Homo sapiens: one gene and its partner. The protein of the gene in region 2 binds, or shares a complex with, the protein of the main gene of each other region. Each region holds a gene or a part of one and is shown on either strand. Other genes may lie near its edges. A codon is read from its position in the direction of its gene.

The links.
Region 1: the proteins of SYMPK (region 2) and SSU72 are in contact, whole or in part, in a crystal structure (PDB 4H3K), measured with the Homo sapiens proteins. Residues at the interface, in NP_004810.2 of Homo sapiens: Val123 (codon at 10,936), Lys127 (codon at 10,924), Leu131 (codon at 10,912), Gln135 (codon at 10,900), Asp175 (codon at 10,032), Asn176 (codon at 10,029), Asp177 (codon at 10,026), Gly178 (codon at 10,023), Thr181 (codon at 10,014), His182 (codon at 10,011), Lys185 (codon at 10,002), Glu188 (codon at 9,993), Pro204 (codon at 9,945), Arg205 (codon at 9,942), Arg206 (codon at 9,939), Gln207 (codon at 9,936), Ser250, Ile251, Thr254, Thr255, Asn262, Ala290, Ser292, Gln293, Ser295, Ser296, Lys299, Asn300, Leu303, His304; in NP_054907.1 of Homo sapiens: Glu113 (codon at 2,244), Tyr116 (codon at 2,235), Asp117 (codon at 2,232), Val120 (codon at 2,223), Asn124 (codon at 1,336), Glu127 (codon at 1,327), Gln128 (codon at 1,324), Glu129 (codon at 1,321), Thr130 (codon at 1,318), Cys131 (codon at 1,315), Gln132 (codon at 1,312), Pro133 (codon at 1,309), His135 (codon at 1,303), Asp167, Glu169, Asn170, Asp173, Gln177, Glu180, Thr186, Phe187, Leu188, His189, Thr190, Val191, Phe193.

Annotation. Positions count from the first base shown.
Region 1 is NC_000001.11:1,542,647-1,558,194, forward strand, and holds part of SSU72 (RNA polymerase II subunit A C-terminal domain phosphatase SSU72), read right to left. Parts: intron 2,357-15,548; coding exon 2,217-2,356; intron 1,342-2,216; coding exon 1,223-1,341; intron 1-1,222. UniProt on the Homo sapiens protein: Protein phosphatase that catalyzes the dephosphorylation of the C-terminal domain of RNA polymerase II. Plays a role in RNA processing and termination. Plays a role in pre-mRNA polyadenylation via its interaction with SYMPK.
Region 2 is NC_000019.10:45,837,874-45,853,421, forward strand, and holds part of SYMPK (symplekin), read right to left. Parts: intron 14,663-15,548; coding exon 14,609-14,662; intron 14,513-14,608; coding exon 14,439-14,512; intron 11,004-14,438; coding exon 10,877-11,003; intron 10,129-10,876; coding exon 9,879-10,128; intron 6,328-9,878; coding exon 6,157-6,327; intron 4,617-6,156; coding exon 4,377-4,616; intron 743-4,376; coding exon 588-742; intron 1-587. UniProt on the Homo sapiens protein: Scaffold protein that functions as a component of a multimolecular complex involved in histone mRNA 3'-end processing. Specific component of the tight junction (TJ) plaque, but might not be an exclusively junctional component. May have a house-keeping rule.

The DNA of each region.
Region 1 (15,548 bases), on a different chromosome or scaffold from region 2:
GGCAGCTCGTTACTCGCCATCTCCACTGTCCCCTGGTCCCCAGCCTTGGCCAGCACCCAGTGCCTCTAAGCAAGGAGCGGCCTGTCTGTGACTCAGCTCTGGCCAACGTGACCCAAGCAGAAATCGTGCAATAACTTCTGGGACGACATTTTCTTATGACCTTTTCTCCTGCCAGGCGATCATGAAGACCGTCCCTGGCGCTTCAGCAGCCACACTGGACCGTGAGGCACGTGGGGACCAGAAGCCATGCTGGGTGGGCCAGGCGGAGCGCAGGAGCCTCTGCGGCCACACAGCAGCTTCTCCCAGCGCCCGCCCGCCTGGCTCCCGGGCTTTCCAAACACACCATCTTCTTTCTTGGTGAAGCTGTTCTGTTTTTCTGTCTTTCACAGACATTCATCAAATCACAGAGGCAGAGGCAGAGGCAGAGGCGGGACGGTGCGTGGGGCTCTCCTCAGGCAGGTCCTTTCGTCACAGCCCAGCACCTCCACGCCGCAGCAGGGTGGCTACAGAAGCCTTGGGGTGCCCCGGCCCCTCTGTGCAAGGGAGACATGCAGGGCCCACTGGGGAAGGCAGGTGTGCAGAAGGCCAAGTCCAGGGGTGGACGGCGGACACAGAGCCCTTGGCAGCCTCCAGGCTCACGTGGGGCACACCTCCGACTGCACCGCATCCCGGAGAGCTGCATGCTCTGCTCACTGAGGTGGGGCTGTGTCCGCCACGGGGAAGAGACAAGGTACCAGGCGTTCCCTGGAGCCGTGTCCTGGGAGAGGGACTAAGCCTGTGTTGGGGAGGTCCCTGTGCAGCGTCTCTCAGCTGAGCAAAGGGCATTGCAGGGGGGCCTCCTGTGCCAAAGCTGTGGAGTGACTCACTGAACTACCAGCAGGCGCCCCCGACACAGGCGAGCTGAGCAGACCTTGCCCCAAGCAGCAGGGCCGGCCTCAGGTCTCGGCCACTCCCCTCTGTCACGGCCTCGGCCACTCCCCACTGTCACGGCCTCGGCCACTCCCCTCTGTCACGGCCTCGGCCACTCCCCACTGTCACGGCCTCGGCCACTCCCCACTGTCACGGCCTCGGCCACTCCCCTGTCACGGCCTCGGCCACTCCCCTCTGTCACGGCCTCGGCCACCCCCTCTGTCACGGCCTCGGCCACTCCCCTCTGTCACGGCCTCGGTCACTCCCCTCTGTCACAACCTCTGCCCAGCGCGGCGCCCAGCCGGGTACTTACACACTGGCAGAGCTCACAGATGAGAAACGCCCCCAGGGTGGCCTCCTCGTGGTTGTCCTGGATGTCCACATTGACCACGTGCACAGGCTGGCAGGTCTCCTGTTCTCTGGAATTCAGATCTGATTGGGACAAGGTGACACAGACGTCAGAGGCTCCAAAACCAGGGAACAGGCAGTCAATGTGGCTGAGTCCCCAGCTCTGCCGGCTGCAGGCCCAGCCCAGCCCCAGTGGTTTCTGGACTCTGCAGTTTGGGGAGCACAATGAATGAGCCTCAAACCGAAGGCGGCTGATGGTTCGAGGAAACCTGAGCAAATCTCCAACTCAGCACAAGCTGGTCTGGGACTCCCCACCCACCAGCCAGTCCTGGGGTGAACCGTGACTGGCATTGCGACCCTTCCCCGTCACTAAAGACCAGCCCTCCCTGCTCCACCGCCAGCTCCACACAGGGTCCATCCGCTTGAAAAATGGGCCTGGCGCGGTGGCTCTCGCCTGTGATCCCAGCACTTTGGGAGGCTGAGGCGGGCGGATCACTTGAGGACAGGAGTTCAAGACCAGCCTGGCCAACATGGTGAAACCCCGTCTCTACTAAAAATACAAAAATCAGCTGGGTGTGGTGGCACACGCCTGTAGTCCCAGCTACTCGGGAGGCTGAGGCAGGAGAATCACTTGAACCCGGGAGGCAGAGGTTGCAGTGAGCCTAGATTGTACCACTGCACTCCAGCCTGGCGACAGAGCACGACTCTGTCTCAAAAAACAAAACAAAAAAACACCAAGGAGAAAAGAGGCCCCTTGAAGCCCATGAGGCTGCAGCCAGCACATGGGTGGTTCAGCGACCAGCGGCCCTGCCTGCCTTCCAGGGTGCTTCACACTCAGGTCTGCTCCCCGGCCCCCGCCACTCTAGACGGGCTGTACTGGTCATGGTGGGGCCCTGCAGGCATCCCCAGACCCTGTGAGAGCTGCTGGAGCCCAGCCCAGCACGCAGCCGCCTCCTCACCTTCCACCACCTGGTCATACACTCTCTCTTCGCAAGTGAGGATCAGATCAAACAGGTCTTTGCAGTTCTGGAATCTTTCTGGCCGGGGCTTGATTCTCTTATTTCTGTCCAGCATATGTAAAATCCCATTCTGTGTATAGCTACACATGGGAGTTAAGGAACGTCAGAGAAAAGGCATCTGTGTATGAAGCCTGGAAGCGCCTGTGTCCTGGACACCCAGCCCCTTCCCTGCCCCACAGCAGAGGCAGCCGGGACGAAGGCCTGGACAGCGGAGTGGGCCATGCCCTGGTGAGGCAGGGGCCTCACTGTCCTAGGAGGTCCCACAGAAAACAAAGTGGGCGATGGCAGGTGCTTGCTCCTCGCTGTCCCCCAACTCGGCAAAAAGACCCAAGGCCCGCAGGACACCCCCCGCCCCCGCCCAGCATGACACCTTCTACCCAGACCTCTCCCCTCACTGCTGGCCCGGCCCAAGCTGCCCTTGGCCTCAGTCACTGTGTCTCCGCAGTCGGATCCTTCTTCCTCCCTCTGCTCCCTGTGCAGTGCATGCTGGCTCTGAAACCTCAGCCCTTCAGCAGAGACAAAGCAAACCCGGAAACCCAGTCCCCAGTCTAGCTCAGCTACAACAGAGTCAAGAACATCGGAAAACCCAAAGAAAGGAAGCTCCAGGCCGGGCGCAGTGGCTTATGCCTGTAATCCCAGCACTTTCGGAGGCCGAGGTGGGCGGATCACGAGGTCAGGAGACCGAGACCATCCTGGCTAACACGGTAAAACCCCGTCTCTACTAAAAATACAAAAATTAGACGGACATAGTGGCACATGCCTGCAATCCCAGCTAATCGGGAGGCTGAGGTTGCAGTGAGCCAAGATCATGCCACTGCACTCCAGCCTGGTCAACAGAGCAAGACTGTCTCAAAAAGAAAAAGAAAAAAAAACAGAAGGTTCAGCAGCAATCAGCCTGGAAAACGCTGATACAAAAACCAAGAGGGCAAGACAGTCGAGGAGGGAGATGCCACAGCCTCACTGACTATGGGATGGTGGAGGGCAGGATGAGGCCTGAAGGCACTTGGCGTCCAGCCCAGCTGAAAGGGGGCCTTGGGGTGAACGCTGACACACACCGGCCCCAGCAGTCCCAGGAAGGGGCCACAGGAGCCTCTGGGGTCCTCAGGGTGGGGCATCCTCCCACCATCCACAGTGGCCATGCCTGGCCTCAGGGGTTCCCAAGGAAGGGGCTCACTTCCCCAAAAAGAGAGACTGGGTTCCCAAAGATGAGCTCTGTGGTCTGCAGGAGCTCATTTGAGCCATTCCAGATGGTCAGGGACAAGTAACCACTTTCAGATAAACAGCCTAGCTGACAGGAATTCTAAGTGAACTCAGCTACCTTCCTGGGTAGCAAAAATAGTTTTTATAATAGTTTTATAATACATTGAAGTGGTTGATCTAACGGCATCTGACCCTGAGCTGCATCCTTGGGTCACTGTCAGCAGCGTGGAAGTCACACACCCACCCCTGACGTGTGTCTCCTCCTGCACATTGGAGTCCCGCCTGTGTCCCCGAGGCCCCTGGAAGCAGCTATGACACCCGGGTCCATCTCTGGGGAACTTAGTCCTTCAGCCGCTGAGAATCAAAGTCTGCGGAAAGAAGAGCTCGAGGCCGGGTGCGGCGGCTCACGCCTGTCATCCCAGCATTCTAGGAGGCCGGGCGTGGCGACTCACACCTGTCATCCCAGCACATCGAGAGGCCGAGGCGGGTGGATCACCTGAGGTCAGGTGTTTGAGACCAGCCTGGCCAAGATGGTGAAACCCCGTCTCTACTAAAAATACAAAAGTTAGCCAGGTGGGGCGGCACACACCTGTAATCTCAGCTACAGCTACTCAGGAGGCTGAGGCACGAGAGTTGCTTCAACCCGGGCGGCGGAGGTTGCAGTGAGCCGAGATCACACCACGGCACTTCGGCCTGGGCGACAGAGTAAAACTCCTTCTGGAAAACAACAACAACAACAAAAAAAAAAAAAAAAAAAAAAAAGGCCGGGCGCGGTGGCTCACACCTGTAATCCCAGCTACTCGGGAGGCTGAGGCAGGAGAAGCTTGAACCTGGGAGGCGGAGCTTGCAGTGAGCTGAGATCGTGACACTGCACTCCAGCCTGGGCAACAAGAGCAAGACACCGTCTCAAAAAGAAAAGAAAAAAAAGAGCTCAAGACGGCCTGACCTTGTTGTGTGCAGCCACATGCAGAGGGGCAGGTGCAGGGACCGGCTCACGGAGAGGAACCGGGGTCAGGGTGCAGGGGTCCAGTGGCAGCTTCATGGTGGGCACAGGGATCACCCTCCCTGCACATCCCTGAGCAAGACACAGCCGGGGGTGAGGCCGTGGGGGCTCCTGGGGATGGGACTGGTGTCACTGGCTGGCAGAGCTCATGGACGTTCAAGGCCAGCTCTTCCCTGAGGCCTGGACAGTTCTAAGTCCTTTCCTCCTTTACGTCATTCTCAACTATTTATGTAGATGAGGCAATAAATTAAGAATCATTCAGTTAAGGAGAAATGTCTACTTCAGGGACAAAGCAGCAGCCTCCTCAGCTACACAAGGATGAGCGAGCAGCCACCCTTCTGGATCTCCTGGCGAGGAGATGCGAGGTGAGGCCCCGCCCAGAGGGCTAGACCTGCAAGCCCCACCAGAGGCTGTGAGGACCTGAGGAGGACCAAAGGGACCACAGACCAAGCCATGAGCTCACAGGGACGCAAGATCCCACCTGAATTCCGGCAGCAAAACCACGGTGCCAGTGAGTGCCACGAGGCAAAGGCTCAGAGCAAGGCGAGAGGACAGGAGCCGCTGGCGGGTGAGGCGGGGCCTTCAATAGACAGGCTCAGGGCCACGGGGAGGCTGAGCAGGTTTCGGGCCTGCGTGCGAGAGCCTGCTCTTCAAGTCATGGGGAAATCCTTTCTGAAGGAAGAACCTAAGTACTGCCGGGCGGGAGGAAGGGGAGAGAGGCGCCATCGGAACAGAAACCTGTCCCATCTTCCGGACACCTGCGCCGCCCAGGTCCTGCAGAAGTCCCACTGACGCAAAGCGTTCGACATTGAACCCACAAAGAAAGAAACCAAAGACTCAGCCCGGGCAAGAAGGCGACACCAGGCGGAGGGCCTGACCCATGCTAGGGCCCCAACTGGGCATGAGGGCCTGAAACGTACCCAGAAAAGTGGGCCAAGAGAGGGCCCAGGGCAGGGCAGGCAAAGAGGATGTGCCATCCATAGAATCGACTGCCCCCATTGGACTCCCAGGGCCTGGACATCCGGCTTTGCACAGTCCCTGCGGCCTCAGGGACCACGTTCAGTAGAGGGCGGCCAACACCCGAAGGCCATGAAACAGAGGCACACAGGAGCCTCAGCTGAAGTTAACACACATCTAAGAAATAAACTCCCAGCTGGGCGCGGTGGCTCACACCTGTAATCCCAGCACTTTGGGAGGCTGAGACAGGCGGATCACAAGGTCAGGAGTTTGAGACCAGCCTGGCCAATATGGTGAAACTCATCTATACCAAATTACAAAAATTAGCCAGGCGTCGTGGCAGGCGCCTTAGTCCCAGCTACTCTGGAGGCTGAGGCAGGAGAATTGCTTGAAGCCAGGAGGCGGAGGCTGCACTGAGCTGAGATCATGCCACTGCACTCTGGCCTCGGTGACAGGAGCAAGACTCTGTCTCAAAAAAAAAAAAAAAAAAAAAACTCCCAAGGATGGGCCAAGAAAATTGTCCAGAGGTGAGATGTGGCAGCCACGGGGTGGGGTGCTGGGGGTGGGTGCAGTGGGCAGGCCCCTCCCCTGCCCTGGCTTCCACATGGACCGCGGTGAGGAAGGTAGCTCCGCTCACCCACTCTGCGTCCTCCCACTCGCCCCCGGAGGCCTTCTGGACTTTGGCGTAAACAGGAGGAGCAGGCCCATCAGACCCTTGAGTGAGATTCCCATGGGTTGAGCACGTGTGGCCAATCCCGAGAGGCCACCGGCCAGCATGAGCCAATGTCCTGGCCCTCCCTGCCCTGTTGGTGTCACTCCCGTCCCACAGTGACGTCTGGAACCCTCCCCCGGTGTGTGGCTGCATGGCCTCCTGAGTCTGGGGATGGGAGAATAAGGCTTGTGCTGGAGGCCTTGGGCTGTGACACATACCTGTGGTCCCAGCTACTCGGGAGGCCGAGGCAGGAGGATGCCTTGAATCCAGGAGGGACCCAGAGAGATCTGGAATATTGTCTCATGCAACAGAAAGTGTCATCAACACAGAATCACGTTAAAATTCTGTGGGGGACTAACCATCAGAGAAACAAACTAAGCTTTCTGTCCACACAGAGCAACAAAGAAACCCTGCCTCTACAAAAAATAAAAAATTACCAGCCTGGGGCCGGGCACGGTGGCTCACGCCTGTAATCCCAGAACTTTGCGAGGCCGAGGCAGGTGGATCACAAGATCAGGAAATCGAGACCATCCTGGCTACCACAGGGAAACCCTGTCTCTACTAAAAACACAAAAAATTAGCCAGGCGTGGTGGCAGGCGCCTGTAGTCCCGGCTACTCAGGAGGCTGAGGCGGGAGAATGGCGTGAACCCGGAGGCGGAGCTTGCAGTGAGCAAGATCGCACCACCGCACTCCAGCCTGGGGGACAGAGCGAGACTCTGTCTCAAAAAAAAAAAAGAAAGAAAAAGAAAAAAAAAGGCTGCAGCCAGGCATGGTGGCTCACACCTATAATCCCACCACTTTGGGAGGCCGAGGCGGATGGCTTATCTGAGGTCAGGAGTTCGAGACCAGCCTGACCAATATGGCAAAACCCTGACTCTACTAAAGTACAAAAATTATGGCTGGGCGCAGTGGCTCACGCCTGTAATCCCAGCACTTTGGGAGGCCGAGGCGGGTGGATCACAAGGTCAGGAGATCGAGACCATCCTGGCTAACATGGTGAAACCCCATCTTTACTAAAAATATAAAAAATTAGCCGGGCATGGTGGCGGGTGCCTGTAATCCCACTGCTCAGGAGGCTGGGGCAGGAGAATAGCTTGAACCCAGGAGGTGGAGGTTGCAGTGAGCCGAGATTGCGCCTCTATACTCCAGCCTGGGTGACAAGAGCGAGACTCTGTCTCAAAAAAAAAAAAAAAAGATGGCAAAACCCCGTCTTCTCTACTAAAAATACAAAAATTAGCCAGGCATGGTGGTGCACACCTGTGATTCCAGCCTCCTCCGGAGGCAGAGGCACAAGAATCACTTGAACCTGGGAGGGGAGATTGCCATGAGCCGAGATCACATCACTACACTCCAGCCTGAGACAGAGCGAGAGTGTCTCAAAAAAAAAAAAAAAAAAGTATATATATATATATGTATATAAATCATGGCATCCAAGACAAGTCCACATGCCACCCAACCAGCAGACAACCCCCGCCATCCTCCACGCCAGCCCGGCTGGGGGTAGCTGGTGCCTCAGAGGGGCCACCCTTCAGGGTTCTTGGCAACGTGTTATTCTGAATGTCTGCTCTTTTCTTTCGAGTTAAGGCACATTTGTTCAATTTTAATTCAGGCAATTTTCAGCAGACATGAGTTTAACCCTAACCATGACTTTCCTGGCTAAGCCTAATGCTTTTGACCCTCCAGCAATTCCCAGACACCAGCGGACACCACAGGCCCTTTGCCAGCACTCAGAGAATCAGTGCCTGGGCCCTTGCCTCTCGCCAGACCCCACGGGGCCTTGAGCCCCGGGCCCCAGGCTGCTGGCCCCCCTCAAGTGCCTGCCAGGGATGGTCCCGGGCCCAGGGAGTCAGGACGAGGCAGTGATCTCGCCTGGCAGAGCCTCAACACTGTTCTGTTGTGGGAGGAAGATGGAGGGAGGGCGGAGGTTTAGCAAAGCACCACACCAGGGAGGACAAGCCTGCCGGAGCCAGGGACCATGGACTGGTGCCGGCCGGAAGGCCTGGTGGTTCATCAGCAGGAAGGCTGCACCCACCACTCACTCCACTGAACCATCACCCACCACACGCCCCTCCCTCCCTGCTGGGCCTGGGAGGTGCACAGACCCTGGGGCATCTCGTGGTCTAGGACCTCCTCTTAAGCTGGACTGAGTTGGGCCCAGGTTTCTGCTGTGGACACATCCACCCCCCAGAAAGCTCCTGTCCTGCCAGCGCCCCCAGGCTGCCCGGGCCTTCAACAACCTCTACAGGGCAGAGCAGGCCTGGCTGCTTCCCCAGGCCAGCTGCACGGGGACCTTCCATGTGGGTTAAATGTCCACACCCCAGGCAAAGCCTAAAGCACACACTGGATCTGGACACACACTGCTCCCTGCAGGCAGAAACAAGGCTGCAGTCCCAGCCATGGAGAAGCCACACACGTCTCCCAGAGGCTGCGGGAGGTATAAATAGCACCATTTGTAGGAATGAAAAAACAGTAATGAAAACTAGAAAAATAAGCCCCACAGTAAAGACACTCAGTGTGTGGCCCACAGCTCTCCAGCCTGCCAGGCATGGGGAGGACCCCAGAGGCTGCAAAGGGAACAGCAGCAGGGTGAGCCCCTGAGCAGGCACGCTGGGCAGCTTCTCCCCAAATCACAGCACCCAAGCTGCTTTTGTTGGGCTACAATCAGCAAAAAATGAATTGAGAAGTACAAAGTAAATTTCACTTGCGATCAAATTCTACCTACGTGTGTGTGCCAGCTGCACCAAATGCTACCTGTACACTCAGATTCCCAGAGCCCATCCCCACTGGTCAGGGAGGGGGAGGCCTGACAGCTGCTGCACTGGGCGCTGCTTCCCGAGCTCCCATCCTGCCCACCAGCCTTTCTCGACCAGGGTCCCGATTCGCGGACGCCAACGGCCCAACCTATCTCTGCCCCAAATCCACGTGGGACACAGCACCCATGTCCAGGGACATCCTGAACGTTTTGCCCATCCTTACGCCAACGTCACATCGCCCCGAAGGCCTGAGGGAGGGTGGTGGGGCCCGAGGCCTGTGCTCACCCCATGCAGGCAGGGCCACGCCGGGCCACCACTACCTTTCCCAACAATGGCCCGGTGTGGGCAGCCCAGTGACTCAGATCCTGTCCATAATGCAACAGAGCACAGCAAAGTCAGCCCCTAAACTCATCAGGAACCTTCCAATTCAGGGGATCCCCAAGCCGGCACCCCCACATCTTCCACTAATGTATCAGCAACTCCCCTGGAAACCGAGTGTGAGGCTGACCAGCGTTCCGACCCGGCACTCTGCTACACGTGTGCAGCAGCAGATGCTCTGGAGGGCGCCGGCTGCCCCAGGGCAGACCATCCTCACGCTGGCCGCGTGGACGCAGGGCCACAGCTTCCTCCGCGAAGCCCTCTGCTTGCTCAACGGCACCTGCACAGGGAGGTGAGGTCACTTCCAGAGGCCCTGGGAAAACCAGAGAACTAGGCCGTCCCATTTTTCTCAAAGGTAACCACTCCCCACACAACTGGTACTTACACAAGTGGCTCTGCACAGTTTCTGTGATCGTCCCTGTGCGGCCTCCTCCTTAGGGACCGGGAGGTGCTGGCAGTGAGGTCAAAGGTCAGGGAGCAGGAACCTGCCTGGGACCCCCTTCGATTTTAGGGCCTCCTGACAAATGATCCGGTGTGACTGACAGCACCTTCTACCAGGGTCTTGGTGCCTGAGCTGTGCCCCACGCCCAGAGGGCGATTCCTCCCGAGCCCCCAGCTCAGAGCCTGAGCTCCAGGGCAGGGCCATCTGCCTGCAAGTGACTGCTCTCCATGGCCCTCAGGACGGTGTCTCCTTCCTGAACACTTTCAGTCAGCCTGAGGAGTAAACCCAACAGACGGCAAGATGGCATCACCACACACTATCTAGTCAGACTGAGGCTTAGTAGACTCTCAGATAACAAAAATGGTGGACTGGCCGGGCGCGGTGCCTCACTCCTGTAATCCCTGCACGTTGGAAGGCCGAGGCGGGTGGATCACTTGAGGTCAGGAGTTTGAGACCAGCCTGGCCAATATGGCAAAACCCCATCTCTACTAAAACTACAAAAATTAGCCAGAAATGGTAGCTAATGCCTGTAATCCCAGCTACTTGGGAGGCTGAAGCAGGAGAAACTATTGAACCCACGAGGCGGAGGTTGCAGTGAGCCGAGATTGCGCCATTGCACTCCAGCCTGGGCGACAGAATGAGACTGTCTCAAAAAAAAAAAAAAAAAAAAATTACTTTTTAAAGTTTTCAAGAAAAAGGTCTTAAATTGTGAATTATTCTGCAACACAAAACCAGACTAAACCCGAAACATTCCACTTGGAGGAAAGCCGGTCTCTGCACTGTGGCCCCATGGTGTCCGGCTTCACTTGGACAGAAACCCTGGATCTGTAACCGCAGCCTCACCCTCAGCACTGCTGCCAGCCGAGAAGGGTCTCCGGCTCGGCCCCTCTGTGCCCCCTCAGCAGACAGAACATAAGGGACTTCTTATCTCCACCCCAGGACATTCCAGTTATTTAGTTATTTAAAAAAATAATAATACAGTAGTTGTTTTGCCAGGAAATTCAGCTTCGGAATACAACCTTTTAAGGCTGAGGCAGGCAGATCACGAGGTTAGGAAATCGAGATCATCCTTGCTAACATGGTGAAACCCGTCTCTAGTAAAAGTACAAAAAACTAGGTGGGCGTGGCCAGGCGCAGCGGCTCATGCCTGTAATCCCAGCACTTTGGGAGGCTGAGGCCAGCAGATCATAAGGTCAGGAGATCGAGACCATCCTGGCTAACACGGTGAAACCCTGTCTCTACTAAAAATACAAAAAAAAAAAAAAAAAAAAAATTAGCCGGGCATGGTGGCAGGCGCCTGTAGTCCCAGCTACTCGGGAGGCCAAGGCAGGAGAATGGTGTGAACCCGGGAGGCAGAGCTTGCGGTGAGCCGAGACCACGCCACTGCACCTCCAGCCTGGGTGGCAGAGCGAGACTCCGTCTCAAAAAAAAAAAAAAAAAGGCACCCAGGCTGACAGACGAACTGGAGCAGGCCGCATCTGAAGGATGTCACCAGTGTGACATTCTCTTGACAATGCAGCTGAACTGTCTACTGAAAAAAACGGAGGATAAAGACCTCATCCAGAGGAGGCCAGTGGTCACTATGGACTGTCTCAAGCAGGGATCCTCCTGGGGACCACCAGACTACGTCAGTGGTGAGAACTCAGCAGGTCCGGGGGACGTCAGGTGGCCACGGAGACCACGTGTCAGTGGCCAGGGCCTCTAAAGAGAAACGAGGAGGAAGTGCAGCTCCAGGGAGTGGAGCGGTTGTGAGATTCACCATCAGCAAAAAGTGAAGCTGAGCACGAGGCGGATCCGGACCACTAAGGGGTCCCCACGAAGCTGAGCACGAGGCGGATCCGGACCACTAAGGGGTCCCCACGAAGCTGAGCATGAGGCGGACCCGGACCACTCGGGGGCCCCCACGAAGCTGAGCACGAGACGGATCCGGACCACTCGGGGGTCCCCACGAAGCTGAGCATGAGGCGGATCCGGACCACTCGGGGGTCCCCACGAAGCTGAGCATGAGGCGGATCCGGCCCATTTGGGGGTCCCCACGAGCCCTCGCTGACCACCCACACCCATTTGATGTGGTTGCTCTCAGGATAAACCACCCAGGGCCCCAAGGTGCCAGGACATACCAGGAAACGCCCCAAACACAGCTCGGTTTTCCTTACCAAGGTTTTCTCTTTTCACTCCCTAGGGGCCTTAGTGGGACCAGAACATCCCGGGGAGTTAGAATGAGCGCAGCTGCCCATCCCACAGGAGAACCGAGAGGCCAGGACCACACTACCCTGCTATGAGTCACCAGGGACTTGAAAGGGAACCCACAGGCACTGCCACGCCAGTGTGGCTGGCACCAGGGACCGCACTCTCCCACCACGGCCTGGGAAAAAGCCATGTCAGGTGCAGCACGCTGGCCACAGGCACTGGAGCCACGAAAGCAACAGCCCTGGGCAGCCCAGCACCATCCTGGGTTCCCTGCTGCCGGCGCCAGCCCCACGTACCCCCGACCACCTCAGCTCCTGGCCCTCAGCCTCTCCTTTGCAAACCGTGGCTGGCAGCAGAGACTTCCTTGACGTCAAGTCTCCTGAAGGTGTTGATGCTCCGTGGAAGCCTTGGTCCTTCCCCGGAAGGCCACACCATCTTCCCTGCACGTATGACTCATCCCAGAGCATGCTAAGTGCTGCTGCCCTGACAGACACACCCACGAGGGGGGCCAGCTATCACCTTATTGGCCAGATTGTCCCGGTAACTGAGTGACGGGACACACAGGAACACTGCAGAGCCTGACAGCCATGCCCCTGCCACACACACAGAAGACTCCCCACATCAGAGGGGAGGTCAGAGGTCTCAAAGGTCAGGTTAGAGCTGGGTCAATCCGTTTCCATGGCAAAACTCAAAGCACCGACACAGGAGGCTCCGGTATCTGTGCTCCTGGTGCATGGCGGGGATGAGACAGCCTCGGCGGCGCTGGTGGAGCTCCTGGGAGCCTCGCTCCAGCGAGGACAGAGCTGCAGCTCAGCACAGTGACTGCCCAGGGCTCTGACCCAGATGCCAACAGCCTGGGCAGTGGCACCTCGGCCAAGAAAGGAGGAACCAGTGCTGCAGGGGCCAGGTGGCGGCTGTGGCAGGCATGTCTGGAGGGAGTGTCGTGCATGTGGGTGACAAGAACAGCCGAGTGTGCCACAAGCGTGGACGGCAGCTCCGTACTCAGAAGGGCACGGTGAGAAGAGCAGGTGACACCGACACGGCTGTGCACAGCACGATGCTCTGGGCTCCCGGGATGGACTGGGATCCACTCACCACACTATGCCACAAGCTTGCCAGCTACCACTTCCATGTCAACGTATCAAGAAATACATCTGGGCCGGGCACAGTGGCTGACACCTGTAATCCCAGCACTCTGGGAGGCCAAGGCAGGCAGACTGCTTGAGTTCAGGAATCCAAGACCAGCCTGGGCAACAGGGCGAAACCTCATTTCTACTAAAAATAAAAAAATCAGGCCAGGTGGGGTGGCTCATGGCTGGAGTCCCAGCTACTCAGGAGGCTGAGGTGGGAGGATTGAGCCCAGGGACATAAGGCTACAGGGAGCTATGATGTTACCACTGAACTCCAGCATCAAAGTCAGAGCGAGACCGTCTCGAAAAAATAAATTCACTTTGAGGCTGGGCATGGTGGCTCACTCCTGTAATCCCAGCACTATGGGAGGCCAATGCGGGTGGATCACTTGAGGCCAGGAGTTTGAGACCAGCCTGGCCAACATGGCAAAACCCCATCTCTACAAAAAATACACAAAGTTTGGCCAGGCACGGTGGCTCACGCCTATAATCCCAGCACTTTGGGAGGCCAAGGCGGGTGGATCACAAGGTCAGGAGATGGAGACCATCCTGGCTAACACGGTGAAACTCCATCTCTATTAAAAATACAAAGAATTAGCCAGGCGTGGTGGCGGCGTGCCTGTAGTCCCAGCTACTTGGGAAGCTGAGGCAGGAGAATCACTTGAACAAGGTGAAACCCATGTCTACTAAAAATACAAAAAATTAGCCGGACGTGGTGGGGGGCGCCCGTAATCCCAGCTACTTGCGGGGGCTGAGGCAGGAGAATCGCTTGAACCCAGGAAGTGGAGCTTGCAGTGAGCCAAGACCACGCCATTGCACTCCAGCCTGGGCAAAAAGAGCAAAACTCTTGTCTCAAAAAAAAAAAAATTTCATTTTGATAGCGAATGCTTTTTTGGCAAAGCACAGAGGCTGCACAAACAGAACTCAGGAACCCCTCGAAAAGGTCTCATGGCCATCTCTGGAGCTGCTGGGCACCCAACTGTAACCGTGGCCTCAACACAGAGCCACACAAGGCTCAGGCCAGCTCTGGGGGGGTCCACCATGGCCTTGCGACTGCAGGCACCGTGAAACTACTTTGCAAAAGCATCTCACCTGCTGCAGACTAGGTGAAAACTCACAGGCTTGTGGGCCCTGACCCTGGGCTACCTCTTGAAGACGAAGGCACAGTCAGCACAGCTGCATTCTGTCCAGACCCTCAAATGACCACCAGCAACTACCTCAGCCAGTCAGCTCCGTTCTACCTCTGTCATCTCAGATGAGAAGAGCAGGCCAGTATCTCTGGCCTTACCTGAAATATCTTAAGGCCGTAATTTACATTTTAGGCATGAATGATTTTCTAAAACCCACGATCAGAGTTTCTCTGGGAATCGGCGTCTGGCTTAGGAACACATTCATTTGTTTGACAAATACCTTCCCAAAACTATTTTAAAACACAGCTGCTGGGCGGGACGCAGTGGCTCACACCTGTAATCCCAGGACTTTGGGTGGCCGAGGCGGGTGAATCACTTGAGGTCAGCAGTTCAAGACCAGCTTGGCCAACATAGTGAAATCCTGTCTCTACTAAAAATACAAAAATTAGCCGGGTGTGGCAGTGCATGCCTATAATCCCAGCTACTCAGGAGGCTGAGGCAGGAGAATCGTTTGAACCTGGGAGGCGGAGGTTGCAGTGAGCCGAGATTGCACCACTGCACTCCAGCCTGGGCGACAGAACAAGACTCTGTCTCAAAAAAGTAAATAAATAAATAAATAAATAAAGCTTCATATCAGCATTTCCTTTTTGGGAACTATACTATTCATCTGAATTAGCATATATATATATATGGGGCCGGACACAGCGGCTCACACCTGTAATCTCAAAACTTTGGAAGGCCAAAACAGGTGGTTCACCGGAGGTCAGGTGTTTTGAGACATGTCTGGCCAACGTGGTGAAACCCCATCTCTACTAAAAATACCAAAATTAGCCAGGCGTGGTGGTACGCCGCACCTGTAATCCCAGCTACTCAGGATGCTGAGGCAGGAGAATCGCTTGAACCCGGGAGGCAAAGATTGCAGTGAGCCGAGATCACGCCATTGCACTCCAGCAGGGGTGACAGACTGAGACTCCATCTCAAAAAAGAAGTCTACCACATTTTACTCTGAGACAAGGAAATGTCCACAGGGAAGTGGCCACACACAGAAGTTAACCTAAAAGACAATGAATTCAGAGGACGGACATGAACAAATGTGCAATTTAAAACACAGGCCAGGTGCAGTGGCAACCCCTATAATCCCAGAGCTTTGGGAGGCCAAGGCGGGCTCATCACATGAGGTCAGGACCAGCCTGGCCAACATGGTGAAACCCCATCTCTACTAAAAGTACAAAAATTAGCCAGGCGTGGTGGCACATGCCTGAAATCCCAGCTACTCGGGAGGCTGAGGCAGGAAAATCGCTTGAACCCAGGGTCGGAGGTTGCAGTGAGCCAAGATCGTGCCATTGCACTCCAGCCTGGGCAACAGAGTGAGACTC
Region 2 (15,548 bases):
AGCGTGGGGAGAAAGTGGAAAAGTGTAGTTCTGCCACATGAGTCTGAGGTGCTCCTGGGACGTCCAAAAGGAGGATGATCAGAAGCGGGTTGCATACCCAGGCCTGAGGCTCACTGATGTAGTCTGGATATTTGTTCCTTCCCGAATCTCATGTTGAATTACAATCCCCGATGTGGGAGGTGGGGCCTGGTCGGGGGTGTTTGGATCATGGGGGCAGATCCCTCATGGCTTGGTGCTGTCTTCAGGATAGCGAGTTGTCACAAGATCTGGTCATTTAAAAGTGTGTGGCACCTCCCTGCTCCCCAACACTCCCTTTCTCCTGCTCCTGCTCTGCCACACGAGATGCCTGCTCCCCCTTCACCTTTCACTATGATTGGAAGCTTCCTGAGGTTTCCCCAGAAGCTAAGCAGATGCCAGCACCACGCTTCCTATACAGCCTGCAGAACTGTAAGCCAATTAAACCCCTTTTCTTTATTAATTAGGAGGGTACTCTGGAGGAGGTGGATGGTGTGAAGTGGAGGCAGGTGAAAGACCGAGGAGATCCTTCCTTCCTGCCCAGGGGGAAAACGCTCCCCACCCATCCTCACCAGATTAGCCACATTATCAGGCGTCAGCAGAGGCTGCAGGAACTCAGCTGTGATGTCCGTGTCTGACTGGCCGGAGATCTGCGCTGAGGCCTTCGAGGTCCCCGACGGGCCTGGCTCCAAGTCTTTGTCCTCATCGTCCTCCCCCAGGTTGGGCTCTGGGATGAGGGAAAAGAACAAGATGCTGGCTATAGAGAGAGCTGCAGGCCCTCCATCCTTCCGGGGTGCCCGGGTGGTCCCTGCCTCTAGTCAGCCTCAGCAAACAGGAGCAAACAGCGGATGAAGATCCAGGCTGCAGCTCTGCCTCTGGTGCCAAACCACTTTATGACCCTGGGCAACTACCTGACTCGTTCTGAACCTCAGATCTCCTGATCTGGGAAATGGGAGTAAGCCACACCCCTGCAGCTTATCATAAGCTCTAAGAAGAGATTATTATTATTACTATTTTTTGAGACAGTCTTGCTCGTCACCGAGGCTGCAGTACAATGGCATGATTTCGGCTCATTGTAACCTCCGCCTCCCAGGTTCAAGTGATTCTCCTGCCTCAGCCTCCCAAGTAACTGGGATTATAGGCATGCGCCACCAGGCCCAGCTAATTTTTTTGTATTTTTAGTAGAGATGGGGTTTCACCATGTTGGCCAGGCTGGTCTCAAATTTCTGACCTCAGGTGATCCACCTGTCTCAGCCTCCCAAAGTGCTAGGATTACAGGCATGAGCCACCACGCCCAGCCTGGTGCAGTTTTTTAGAAGGCACTTTGGTAATGGCTATCAAGAATGTACACTCGGTACCTAAGGGCACACCTGGGCTCAGACCTTGATTTCTGAAACTATTCCCCACTTAAAGGAAACCAGGGTTCCTTAAAAAGAAAGACTGATTCCAGGGCTGGGGCAAGGACAGTACAAGAGGAGTCTAGAACATCTTGTCATGCTAGTAAGTAAGTGAAATGCTCAAAACAAATTCCTGATAGTAAGTGGGAAGAAGAAGAGAAAGTTCTTCCTTACAGCAGAATGTCAACTGATAAATGTAGAAGGAAAATCTCTTTGGAGCCAGTATAGAATAATAGACTCAGGCAACAATCATCACTGGATGTTAAAACCACTGGGTGAGGCTGGGCGCAGTGGCTCACACCTGTAATCCCAGCACTTTGGGATCATGAGGTCAGGAGATCGAGACCATACTGGCTAACACGGTGAAACCCCGTCTCTACTAAAAAAAATACAAAAAATTAGCCGGGCAGATGGCGGGCACCTGTAGTCCCAGCTACTCGGGAGGCTGAGGCAGGAGAATGGTGTGAACCCAGGAGGCGGAGCTTGCAGTGAGCCAAGATTGCACCACTGCACTCCAGCCTGGGCAACAGAGCGAGACTCTGTCTCAAAACAAAACAAAACAAAACAAAAAAACACAAAAAAACCACTGGGTGAACGTTTAAAGAGAAACATGTATTTTACATAGTTTCAAATATCTCCCCCAGCTTATTACTGACAAAGATAAAAATGGCACTTGACACTAGAGAAAGCTGGTTGAAACTGTGTTAACCAAGCGTTCAAAAGTTAATATCTCCAACAATGGGACACCATGTGCCTCCTGATCCCATGTACTGAGGCAACCAGGGGATCACCTGAGGCGGGTGGATTACCTGAGGTCAGGAGTTTGAGACCAGCCTGGCCAACATGGTGAAACCCTGGCTCTACTAAAAATGCAAAAAAATTGGTCAGATATGATGGCGCGCACCAGTAGCCCCAGCTACTCGGGAGGCTGAGGAGGGAGAATCTCTTAAACCTGGGAGGCGGAGGTTGCAGTGAGCCAAGATCAGGCCACTGTACTCCAGCCTGGGTGACAGAGCGAGACTGTCTCAAAAAAAAAAAAAAAAAAAAAAAAAGACAAATTTGGTGGGTAAAATATAACTTTAAATATACAAACCCTGGCCAGGTGCAGTGGCTCACGCCTGTAATCTCAACACTTTAGGAGGCGAAGGCAGGCAGATCACTTGAGGTCAGGAGTTCAAGACCAGCCTGACCAACATGGTGAAGCCCCGTCTCTACTAAAAAGACAAAATTAGCTGGGCATGGTGGCACATGCCTGTAATCCCAGCTACTTGGGAGGCTGAGGCAGGAGAATTGCCTGAATCTGGGAGGCAGAGCTTGTAGTGAGCCAAGATCCCACCACTGCACTCCAGCCTGGGCAACAAGAGTGAAACTCCATCTTTAAAAAAAAAAAAACAAACAAATACAAAAATTAGCCCGGTGTGGTGGCATTCGCCTGTAATTCCAGTTACTCAGGAAGCAGAGGTATGAGAATTGCTTGAACCCGGGAGACAGAGGCTGCAGTGAGCCCAGATTACACCACTGCACTCCAATCTGGGCAACAGAGCAAGACTGTCTCAAAAAAAAAAGGATGAGGTAGATTTCTATAAAGAACTCCAAGATGAAAGTAAATGAAACTAAATGAAAACAAGGTACAGAATACTCTGCTTAGTATACTTAATTATGAAAAAACATAGTAAGATCCCTACCTCACTCCTTAGATAAATTCCTTTTTTTTTTTTGAGACGGAGTCTTGCTCTGTCACCCAGGATGGAGTGCAATGGTGCAATCTTGGCTCACTGCAACCACTGCCCCCAGTTCAAGCAATTCTTCTGCCTCAGCCTCCCAAGTAGCAGCAACTACAGGTGTGCACCACCACGCCTGGCTAATTTTTGTATTTTTAGTAGAGACAGGGTTTCACCATGTTAGCCAGGCTAATTTCGAACTCCTGACCTCAGGTGATCCCCTCAACTTGGCCTTCCAAAATGCTGGGATTACAGGCATGAGCCACTGTGCCTGGCAATTCCCCCCCCACCTTTTTTTTTTTTGAGACAGAGTTTCACTCTTGTCACCCAGACTGGAGTGCAATGGCATGATCTCGGCTTACTGCAACTTCTGCCTCCTGGGTTCAAGTGATTCTCCTGCCTCAGCCTCCAGAGTATCTGGGATTACAGGCATGCACCACTACACCCAGCTAATTTTTGTATTATTAGTAGAGACGGGGTTTTTCCATGTTGGCCAGGCTGGTGTCAAACTCCTAACCTCAGGTGATTCACATGCCTTGGCCTCCCAAAGTGCTGGGATTACAGGCGTGAGCCACTGCGCCCAGCCTAATTCCTTATTTTTTAAAATGAAAAAATAAATCTTTCGTAAATGCTCTAGAAAAAAAGTGTGATTTAAGAAAAAAATCTTAAAGTTAAGAAAAGCCATAGTTGACACTATTGATAAATAATACAACCACTAGAAAATTACTTCAGAAAGAAAATTATCTGATAACTAAAACAAAGGAATGAAAGAAGAGCTCCACACTCTACATAAAGCACTTCTGGAGGAAAACATAAAGAAGTGTTCACACCTGGGGAGTGGTTACTTCTTGGGAGAGGGATAAGAGGGATACTATTTTCATTTTATTCCTTTCTGTAAAATTTAAATAATGCATAATTTATTAAACGTATATTTTGATAATTCTATTGTAATTTATATATCATATTAAATACTGTAATTTATTTTTATAATTATTTTATAATTTTTTAAAATTAGAGACAGGGTTTTGCCATGTTGCCTAGGTTGGTCTTGAACCCCGGCCTCAAGTGATCTGCCCGCCTCAGCTTCCCAAAGTGCTGGGAATACAGGTGTGAGCCACTGTGCCTGGCCCACATAACATAATCTATAATATAATCTTAGTAAATACAAATTCAGCATAGTTTAAGGTAAATAATGAAACATTTCAGCATGGTCTGCCTGCCCCACCCCACCAGCCCCTCTCACCCAGCTTCATCTTCTTGAGTGTGGAGTCCGAGTCATCGCGGGGCCGCTTGCGGGTGTCCTTGCTGCTCGGCATGTTGCGGGCGATCTCGGCCTGAGGTGTGCCCAGGTCCACCAGCAGGGTGGTGATCTGGGCCTGGAACTCCAAGGAAGCCGGGTGCTTCAGCACACTCAACAGGTGCAGCTTCAGATTCTTACGCACACTGCTCACCTGCGATTTGGCCAGCGTCGGGGGCAGGTTGGCTGTGAGGAAAGTGGCAGGAGCTGTGTCTTGTGGAAGATCTCATGGCATGCTGCCAGTCTTAATTCTCAACCCCAAACTTGGGCAGTGGTCTTGCAGGCATCTACTAGAAAAGTTCCTTCACCCTCAGATCTAACGTGTGGCTTTCCGCCTTACAAGCTGATGCTTCAAACCCTGGGGGTCTCCATCAGTATCAGTCAATCTTAAAGAGAAAAACTCACCCTCTCTTTTAGTAAATACATACAATTTCGTCCTCCTCCATCTCTGGTCTGGAAATTCACATATGCTTCGCTTGGGGAGGGTTATAATCACCACTTTTGCCTCCAGAAACCCCCAACTGAACTGCTGCAACAGCTCACTGCTAGTCTCCCTGACGCCAGGATGACTTTCTAATGGTCACCCTGATAAGTGAGCCTCCCCTGTTCCACAGTGAAAAAGGATGCCTGTAATTCTGCCTGCCTAGCATCCACTGCCCCTTCCTCAGCCAACAACACAACCCACTCTCCGTTAAGGGAGACCCCCCTTCTCCAGTCTCCTTCCGAGTGGGCATGAGACCTGGGGCCAGTGAGAATACCACATTCCCTTGGCCACTGTAATTGGCTCAGAGACTGGCTCATAATCTCTGCTCAGCCAATCAGAAACAATGACCGTCAGCCCTTGGACTTCTGCTGGAATGGTTGGGAAGGAGACACTCTCTTTCCCATGGTGTTGCTAAGTGAACGGAATGGGAGCCATGAACTATGGGGGGCCATCTTTGCTACCCTAAGGAAAGGGCCAGAGAGTGAAACTAAAATGGAGAAACAAAGAGCTGAGAGATGGAGAAATGCAGATCCACGACCTGTACGCATTCATACCCCAACCCCAGACTTCTCGGTTTTCGTTTCACAAAACAGAGAAAATGGTATGAGTCTCTGTGTACCCATCAACATTTCGCTAATCTTGGAACATCTATCCTCCCTTTTGGTGGGGGGAGAGGACTGGAATATTTGAAAGTATTTCACAGACATCATGTCATTTCACCCCCACATACCTCAATATTAAAGCCAGTCCTGAATCAAGTTTCTGTCACATGCCAAAAGATTCCTGTCTAATGTAGAGAATCTCAGGCCTGCCAGATGGATGACTAGCGCTCGGGGTCCACCACGGAGCTACATTTCTTTAAGAATGAGCAGGCTGAGGCCGGGTGCAGTGGCTCACACCTGTAATCCCAGCACTTTAGGAGGCCGAGGCAGGCGAATCACAAGGTCAAGAGATAGAGATCATCCTGGCCAACACGGTGAAACCCCGTCTCTACTAAAAGTAAACAAATTAGCTGGGTGTGGTGGTGTGTCCTGTAATCCCAGCTACTCGGGAGGCTGAGGCAGGAGAATCACTTGAACTGGGGAGGCAGAGGTTGCAGTGAGCCAAGATTGCACCACTGCACTCCAGCCTGGTGACAGAGCGAGACTCTGTCTCAAAAAAAAAAAAAAAAAAAAAAAAAAAAGAAAGAGCAGACTGGCCAGTGAAGAGAAGGCAGGGGGAGGGGGGAGGACAATGACCTACCATGCAGAGTTTCATAGGCCTGGATCACCTCAGACATGAACATGGGTCTCTGGCGGGCGATATTGGCAAGGGAGCCCAGCGCTGTGGTCAGGTTGATGGAGGAGATGGCAGGGTGCACCATGAACTTAAGCAGCTGCTCCAAGGCTGCCTTGCCCTCTTCCCATAGCACGTCTAAGAGACAGAGAGGAGAACCAGTCAGTGGGATCCGTTTTCCCAGGCCTCTGGAGACAGCAGCTTTTGGGACTAAAAGGAAGGACAGATCCTGGTACCTAGATGTCTATGAATGGCGGGAAAAACAGAAAATGTGGTGGTTGATTAGTTCTATGAGACTATTAATGAGTATAAAAATTTAGTTATAAGGGGCTAGACGCAGTGGCTCATGCCTGTAATCCCAGCACTTTGGGAGGCCAAGGCAGGCAGATCACTTGAGGTCAGGAGTTCAAGACCAGCCTGGCCAACATGGTAAAACCCCGTCTCTACTAAAAATACAAGAAATTAGCCCAGGTGTGAAGGCCTGTGCCTGTAATCCCAGCTACTTGGGAGGCTGAGGCAGGAGAATCGCTTGAACCCAGGAGGCAGAGGTTGCAGTGAGCCGAGATCGCGCCACTGCACTCCAGCCTGGGTGACAGAGTTGGACTCCATATTAAAAAAAAAAAAAATTTAGTTATAAAGATGTTCAAAGCATGGGCTTGCAATAGTGAAAGACTAGAATACATGTGTATATACACACAACTCAAAGTCCCTTGTGACACCACTCCCCTCAATACAGTCCCCAAAATTAATGCTTAAAACTTTGGTGGATATCTTTCCAGACCTTTCCTATACAGAAACATAACGAATGCCATATATATGTTTTTAACTTAAAAAATTTTAATGGGTATATAGTAGGTGTAAATAATTATGGGGTACATGAGATTTTGATACAGGCATGCAATGCATAATTATCACCATCAGGGTAAATGGGGTCTCCATCACAAGCATTTATCCGTTTTGTTACACACAATCCAATTATACTATTTCAATTATTTTAAAATGTATGATTATTTTTTAGTATAGTTACCCTGCTGTGCTATCAAATACTGGATCTTTTTTTTTTTCCCTGAGATGGGGTCTCACTCTGTCACCCAGAGTGGAAAGCAGTGGCGTGATCTCGGCTCACTGCAACCTCCACCACCCAGACTCAGGTGATCCTCTCAACTCAGCCTCCTGAGCTGCTGAGACCACAGGCACATGCCACCATGCTTGGCTATCAAATACTAGATCTTATTTGTTCTAACTATTTTTTTGTACCCATTAACCATTCCCACTTCCTCCCCAACCGCCCATTACCCTTTTCAGCCTCTGGTAACCATCATTCTACCGTCTGTCTCCATGAGTTCAATTGTTTTCATTTCTAGCTCTCACAAATAAGTGAGAACATGCAAAGTTGTCTTTCGGTGCCTGGCTTATTTCACTTAATGACTTCCACTTCCATCCATGTTGTTGCAAATGACAGGATCTCCTTCTTTTTTATGGCTGAATAGTATTCAATTGTGTATGAGTACCACATTTTCTTTATCTATTACTCTGTTGATGAATACTTAGTTTGCTCCGAAGTCTTGGCTATTCTGACTAGTGCTGCAATGAATATGGAAGTGCGGGTTATCTTTTTGATACAGTGATTTCCTTTATTTCGGTTACATATCCAGCAGTGGGATTGCTGAATCATATGGTAGCTCAATTTTTAATTTTTTGAGGAACCTCAAAACTCCAAACAATTTTTAGGCTGTAGTAAGTGACATTCTCACCAACAGTGTACAAGTGTTTCCCTTTCTCCACATCCTCGCCAGCATTTGTTGTCTTTTTGATAAAAGTCACTTTAACTGGGGTGAGACATTTCATTGTAGTTTTGACTTGAACGCCACATTATTTAAAATAGTGAATTAGGCCGGGCGCGGTGGCTCACGCCTGTAATCCCAGCACTTTGGGAGGCCGAGGTGGGCAGATCACGAGGTCAGGAGATCAAGACCATCCTGGCTAACACAGTGAAACCCTGTCTCTACTAAAAATACAAAAAATTAGCCGGGCGTGGTGGCGGGCACCTGTGGTCCCAGCTACTCGGGAGGCTGAGGCAGGAGAATGGCGTGAACACGGGAGGCGGAGCATGCAGTGAGCCGAGATAGCGCTACTGCACTCCAGCCTGGGTGAAAGAGCGAGACTCCGTCTCAAAAAATAAAAGTGAATTAAAAATCTAAATGACCATCAACAGAGCATTGCTTAATAGAATGTAATGTAACTATACTATGGAATATGGTATAGCAACTATATGATTCTCACAGGGAAGGACGTCACTGATACTATTAAGTCAAAAAGGCTGTCAAACAATACATAAGAATAGTTAATATTTATGGAATGTTTACTATTCCAGCCATATTAATACACCAAATGCTCATACCTACATCCTAAATTAGATGCCATAATAACGATCCCCAATTTACCAATGAGGAATCAGGCTCAGAGACAAGGGAAAATAGGCTGTGTGTCAGACACAAGCTACTATAATGTCTCTGAGATGAAAACACAAAGCATGGCCTCATTTTTGCAAACAGAAAAGCAAACAAATGCAGACACTATGCATATACACATACAAATACCTACATGTGCACAGGAAAGATCTGAAAGGAAACATAATACTCTTAACAGTGTTTATCTCTGGAAAGCAGGACTGAGGGAGGGGACATTATTCCTTTTGATTCACCCATATTGCTTGACACCAAGTGTATATATAGTACTTTTTTTTTTTTTGAGACAGTCTCATTCTGTCACCCAGGCTGGAGTGCAGTGGCACAGTCTCAGCTCACTGCAACCTCTGCCTCCTGGGTTCAAGCGATTCTCGTGCCTCAGCCTCCCAAGTAGCTGGGATTACAGGTGCCCGCCACCATGCCCGGCTAATTTTTGTATTTTCAGTAGATAAGGGGTTTCACCATGTTGGCCAGGGTGGTCTCGAACTCCTGACCCCAAGTGATCTGCCTGCCTTGGCCTCTCAAAATGCTGGGACTATAAGCATGAGCCACCACACCTGGCCTATGTCCTACTTTTATAATTTGCAGTTAAGAAAACTGTAAAACTGCCCGGCGCGGTGGCTCAAGCCCGTAATCCCAGCACTTTGGGAGGCCAAGGCGGGCGGATCACAAGGTCAGGAGTTCGATACCAGCTTGGCCAATATGGTGAAACCCTGCTTCTACTAAAAATAATTTTTAAAAAAATTGGCCAGGTATGGTGGCGGGAGCCTGTAGCCCCAGCTACTTTGGAGGCTGAGGCAGAAGAATCTCTTGAACCCGGAAGGCGGAGGTTGCAGTGAGCTGAGATTGTGCCATTGCACTCCAGCCTGGGCGACAGAGGAAGACTCCATCTCAAAAAAAAAAAAAAGAAAACCATAAAACTAGCTAGCATCGACTGGCTCACACTCATGGAACTTCACTACAAACCTGTGAGAGTGGTACTATGTTATCGTCTCCAATTTACAAAAAAGAAAATGAAGTACAGAGACAGGTAACTTGCCCAAGTTCATGATGAGTAAGCAGTGCAGCTGGGATCTGAACCTAGCACCAGGGATCTTAACTACTGCACACACTGTTCCAGAAATTTAAAACCAAAAAAGACAAGGGGGAGAGAGGGAGGGGCGTGAAGGAGAGGAAACTGGTGCAGGGCTGTCAGGGGTGGCAGCTGAAGGCAGTACTCACTGTACTGGATGTAGGGGTGGTCACGAGGGATGCGGTCCAGGCTGATATCATGCTCCTGGCGTCGGGGTATCTCTGAGTCAGCCATGCGGGGTGACAGGGTGACAATGAGGCCCTCCACAAACTTGATGGCGTGGGTGCGGATGCCGTCATTGTCAGAGTCCAATAGCAGGATGATGTCCCCCGCCATGGCAGATACCATGTCCCAGCAGGCCTCCTGTAGCTCGCTAATGACCCGTGACTTTACCATCCACTGCCAGCAGGCCAGGAAGGAATGGAAGAGACACACAAAGAGGTGAAGACAACGCATCAATCACCAACACCCTCTGCCAATACCCAGAGAACCATGAATGATGAATACATTCATTTGGTTAACAGTTACTGAGTTCCAACTCTGCCCCAGCCCAGTGCTCGGTGATGCTGGAGACAGGACTGAGTAGTGGCCAGGCCTCGCCCTGCCCTCATGGGGATGCAGAGAGTGACCACTCAGTGTGATGAAGGCACACATCTTCAGGGTAAAGGACTAACAGTGCTGACTTCACAAGGTGGTGGTGATTAAATGGATTCATTCGTTTTATTAATGCTAATGTACATCACACCATAGAGTGTTCTTTTCCTATCACACTCCATAATCAATATTTATGTGATTCATTAATTAAGGTCTACCTCCCTCCTTGGGTTATGAGCACTGTGAAGGCAGTAAGCTGTCTTGGTCACTGCTGTGTCCCCAGCATCACCTAGCCCAGGGCTAAGCACAGAGGACATACTCAGGGAATGTCTGTTGAGTGAATAAACGGATGGTCAATGGAAGGAATGAAGGTTAAGTGCAACTTCCTGACCTAGGAGACAACGTTAGCTCTCCATGTTATCTGTTCCCACAGACCAGTGGCACATCTTGCCCATAAAGAGTATGCTCGGATGCTGGTTTTGAACCCCAACATATTAGTTTGTCAACGAGACATATCAGGCAGGATGGCCCTGGGTGGGGAGGGCGCTCTCACCTGCAGGGCCACCTTGTAGAGCTGGGTCATGGTGAGGATAGCCTTCTTCACCACGTTCACATTCTCGTCCCTCAAGAGCATGTTGAGGTTTGCAATGAGTTTCAGCAGCAACTCAATGTCTCGCTTGCTGAGGGATGGAGAAAAAAGGGGCGAGGTCAAGGTGTGGTCTTAGAGCAAGTAGGAGGAGCCTGAGGTCCAGGAGGGAAGGGAAATCAGGGACCTGTCTCAGGGGACCGGAATGGCACATCCAGAAGCTGGGAACAGTGCTTGGTGCCTCCAGACTGAGCCGCCCCTGAACCCTCTATCTAGACTGGTCCTGTAACACCAACTCCTTTGCTCTCTCAGGGCCCTGCTGTTCACATAAGGGACAGTAGGGGCAGACAACTGTGTGAATTTGGACAAGCGACTTCACCTCATTTAGAATAATAGTATCTATCCAATTGTTTATGCAATTTTTTGGGAAAATTGCAACAATACTTGTAAAGTGCTTAGAAGAGTGCCTGACATGCAGAAAGCATTCAGTAAACACCAAAAAGCATTCGGTAAACACCAGCCATTGCTACTTTAAAGCACTTTGTTTTCTGTAATCACTAGTTTTGCTTGCCTCAGTCTGAGGGCTCAAAAAGTAGGGACCCTTTCCTAGCTTGGCAATAACCCCAGCAGGGTCATTTTCATTGAAGAAAAAAATGAAGGGCCTCCAACAAATGTTCAATGAATAAATAGGAGCTCAGCACAGAATTTTCACAGCATACATTACAATCTGAAATATTAATTAAATCAGTCAAAAAATATGAAACTTAGCTGTCAGCTACATGAAGGCAGGAATAATACGTTTTTGCTCACTGCTATACTACAGCCTAACATGGATGCCTGGTACGACAGCAGTCACATGGTATGTATTTGCTGAATGGACTTTTTACAAATTCAGAAAATTTACCACAAATTCTCCCAGTAAATGGGGAGATAGGATATTTGGGTTCTGGCATTGCAGACATGAGTTAAAATCCCAGCCTTGGCCAGGCGCAGTGGCTCACGCCTGTAATCCCAGCACTTTGGGAGGCTGAGGCAGGTGGGTCACCTGAGGTCAGGAGTTTGAGACCAGCTTGACCAACGTGGTGAAACCCCATCTCTACTAAAAATACAAAATTGGCCGGGCATGGTGGCGGGCACCTGTAACTCCAGCTACTTGGGAGGCTGAGGCAGGAGAATCACTTGAACCTGTGTGGTGGAGGTTGCAGTTAGCCGAGATCGCACCATTGCACTCCAGCCTGGGCAACAAGAGCGAAACTCCATCTCAAAACAAAAACAAAAACAAAAACAAAAAAAAACAACAACAGAAAACAAAATTAGCTGGGTGTGGTGGCAGGCACCTGTAATCCCAGATACTCGGGGGGGCTGAGGGAGGACAATCACTTGACTCAGGAGGCAGAGGTTGTAGTCAGCCGAGATTGCACCACTGCACCCCAGTCTGGCCGACAGAGTGAGATTCCATCTCAAAAAAATAATAAATAAATAAAATCCCAGCCTTGCCACATTCTGGCTGTGTGACCTTAAGAAAATTCACTTCACCTCTCTGAGACTGTTTTCTCTTCAGTTAAAGGGTCAAACAACTGATCCATAGTATTACGAATAATGAAGCTGCTCAAGCATTTAATACAGTGCCTTACAAACAAATATTTAATACACAGTAGCTAGTCTACTTCCTCCCAGTCACAAAGCATCCAGTAAAGCTTTAATAAACAAATGAGCAAGTGACCAGCTTGAACAAGTCACTTGACCATTCTGAGCCTGTTTCCCTTTCTGTAAAAAGAGGATAACCACAGTATCCATCGAGGCTGCCATAATTACGGAGATAACACGGGAAAGGACCTGACACAGCGCAGGGCACAGTACGTGTTCCATGTGGTGACTGTTATGTTCAACTCATTCACGTGTGCAACAAATACGTAGTCAGCCCCTACTAGGTGACAACACTGCTCCAGGCAGGTACTGGGGACAAAGTGGCCAGCAAGACAGAAAAAGTCAAGCCCCGTCCTCACAGAGCTGATATTTTGCGGGAAGAATCAAGGTTATTTCAATGAGTGAGGAACACTGTAAAGAACAGTGAAGGTGGGGTGCCTGAGACATGGGGCTGCATGGGAGCGGGCAGGAAGGAATTTCTGAGGAAGAGACCTGAGGGAAGGGAGGGGAGAGCCAGGTGGCAACCTGGGGACGAGGGCCCCTAGCAGGAACAGCAAGCAGACAGGCTGCGAAATCCAACTGTGACTTCTGAGGAGCAGGGGAGACAGAGAGGATCAGAAGTGAGATGAAGCCGAAGTGAGAGTTTGGGTTTCCACCTAAGTAAGCTGATGAGCCAGCTGGGGTCTGAGAGCAGGGGTGTGCCAAGACTGATTTACATTTAACAGCGTCACTCTGGCTGCTGAGTGCAAGAGTGGAAGCGGGAAATGAGTGCGGTGATTCCTCTTTGGGGGATGAAATGCCCTGGAACGAGATTGTGAACGTGCTAAATGCCACTCACTTGTTCACTTTAAAATAGCTGATTTTTGCTGGGCGTCGTGGCTCATGCCTGTAATCCCCGCACTTTGGGAGGCCAAGGTGGGCCAATCACTTGAGGTCAGGAGTTCAAGACTGGCCTGGCCAACATGGCAGAAACCCCATCTCTACTAAAAATACAAAAATTAGCCAGGCATGGTGGCACGCACCTGTAATCCCAGCTATTCAAGGAGGCTGAGGCACAAGAATCTCTTGAGCCTGGGAGGTGGAGGTTGTAATGAGCCAAGATTGCGCCACTGTACTCCAGCCTGGACAACAGAGCAAAACTCAGTCTCAAAAAAAAAAAAAAGGCCAGGCACAGTGACTCACACCTGTAATCCCAACACTTTGGGAGGCCAAGGCGGGCAGATCACCTGAGGTCAGGAGTTTGAGACCAGCCTGGCCAACATTGCAAAACCCCTTCTCTACTAAAAATACAAAAATAAGCCGGATGTGGTGGCGCATGCCTGTAATCCCAGCTACTTGGGAGGCTGAGGCAGGAGAATAGCTTGAACCCGGAAGTCGGAGGTTGCAGTGAGCCGAGATTGCGCCACTGCACTCAAGCCTGGACAACAGTTGAGCGAGACTCCGTCTCAAAACAAACAAACAAACAAAAGATTAAAAAAAAAAGCTAATTTTGTTATATGAATTTCAATTTAACTAAAAAGAAAAAGAAGGGAGCCAGAGAGAGACCACTGAAGTCATCAGGTAGGAGGAAAGGGTGGCTTGGGCCTGCATAGTGGCAGAGGAAGTGATTGACAAACGGTCAGATGCTACAGATATTCTCAAAGTGGAGCCCACAGTCCTTAGTGATAATGTAGATGTGAAGTGTGGAAGAAGCAGAGGAATCACAGATGACCCCAGGGTTTCCATCTTATTAAGTATTTGCTGGGGAATCAGTGTGTATGAGAGAGAGAAAGGGTCTGGGAAGCAGAGGGCAGGCCTCTCAGTGGTGGCCTCCAGGCCAGGCCACGAGCTGAAGGCTGCCACCAGTGAGAATGCTCCCGGGGCTCCGTGCCTCGCCCCATACCATGCCTCCTCGATGAAGCCGATGACAAATTTTCGCACTTCGATTGACTTGTCTGCTTGGAATGCGATGATCTCCTGCCAATGTTAGAGAGAAAGTGGATCAGGGCTACACAAGGATCCACATCCCCTTTCCCCTACACCACACCCCTTTCTCTTCTGTCAGTCACTCACATCCAGGAAGTTGTCCAGTAGTGTGGGGTCTTTGTTGATGATCAGCTCCTGGACCTGGAAGGAGATTGGGGGTGGGGAGGAGGAATACCCATATAAAACGAGGGGCCAATCAATGCAGACAGGAGAGTAGAGGGGAAGACAGCAGAGGGCTAGGCAGCAGATACACTCATTTCAATGCCTGGCTCTGCTTCTCCCTACCAAGGGTGCTATGCTCTGGGCATGGTCTCTGAACCTCAGTTTGCTCTTCTATAAAATGAGACTCTTAAACATCAACTCAAAAGGGATGTTAGGAGGCTACAATGAGATCCTACAAGGCACAGGTCCTGGTAGATAGTGAGGACATGACACAGGAGGGGGCTGAAAAAAAGAGGAAAGTGCCCCAAGGCTCAGGCCTTCCTGAGGTTTGGCCTCCATTCACCTGTCCATCAGTTCTCCCCACTCTCCTTCTGCTTCTGCTCCCTACTTCACATTGCCATGATTCAGCAAACATCTTCACAGTGAGAACCCAATTCCTGAAGCCCTTGTGCCTGCCAGGCTCTTTGGAGTAAGCCCTTCCCATGGACATCCTCCAATAAGCAAAGAGCTGGCACAGGACCTGGCTGCTACAACTCAAGCTACTATTGCTAAACGGCCTCATGACCACCCATGGGGGAGGCACCAGGTGCATCCACTCCACCTCGGAGGTGGGGCTACTCCACAAGGCTACAGGCTGATGAAGGAGCCGAACGGGTTCTCACACAGGAATGCTAACCCTGCCAGTCTCTGAACTCCAACTGCCTCCTGCTCTGAACCATGCCCAGCCCAAGTGTCCCATGTCGTCTTCTGCCTTTGCACACACTTCTGTGCCCTCAGCTTGACATGCTCTCCCTCTCTTGGCTGGGCACGGTGGCTCGTGCCTGTAATCCCAGCAGTTTGCGGGGGCCAAGGAGGGTGGACCACT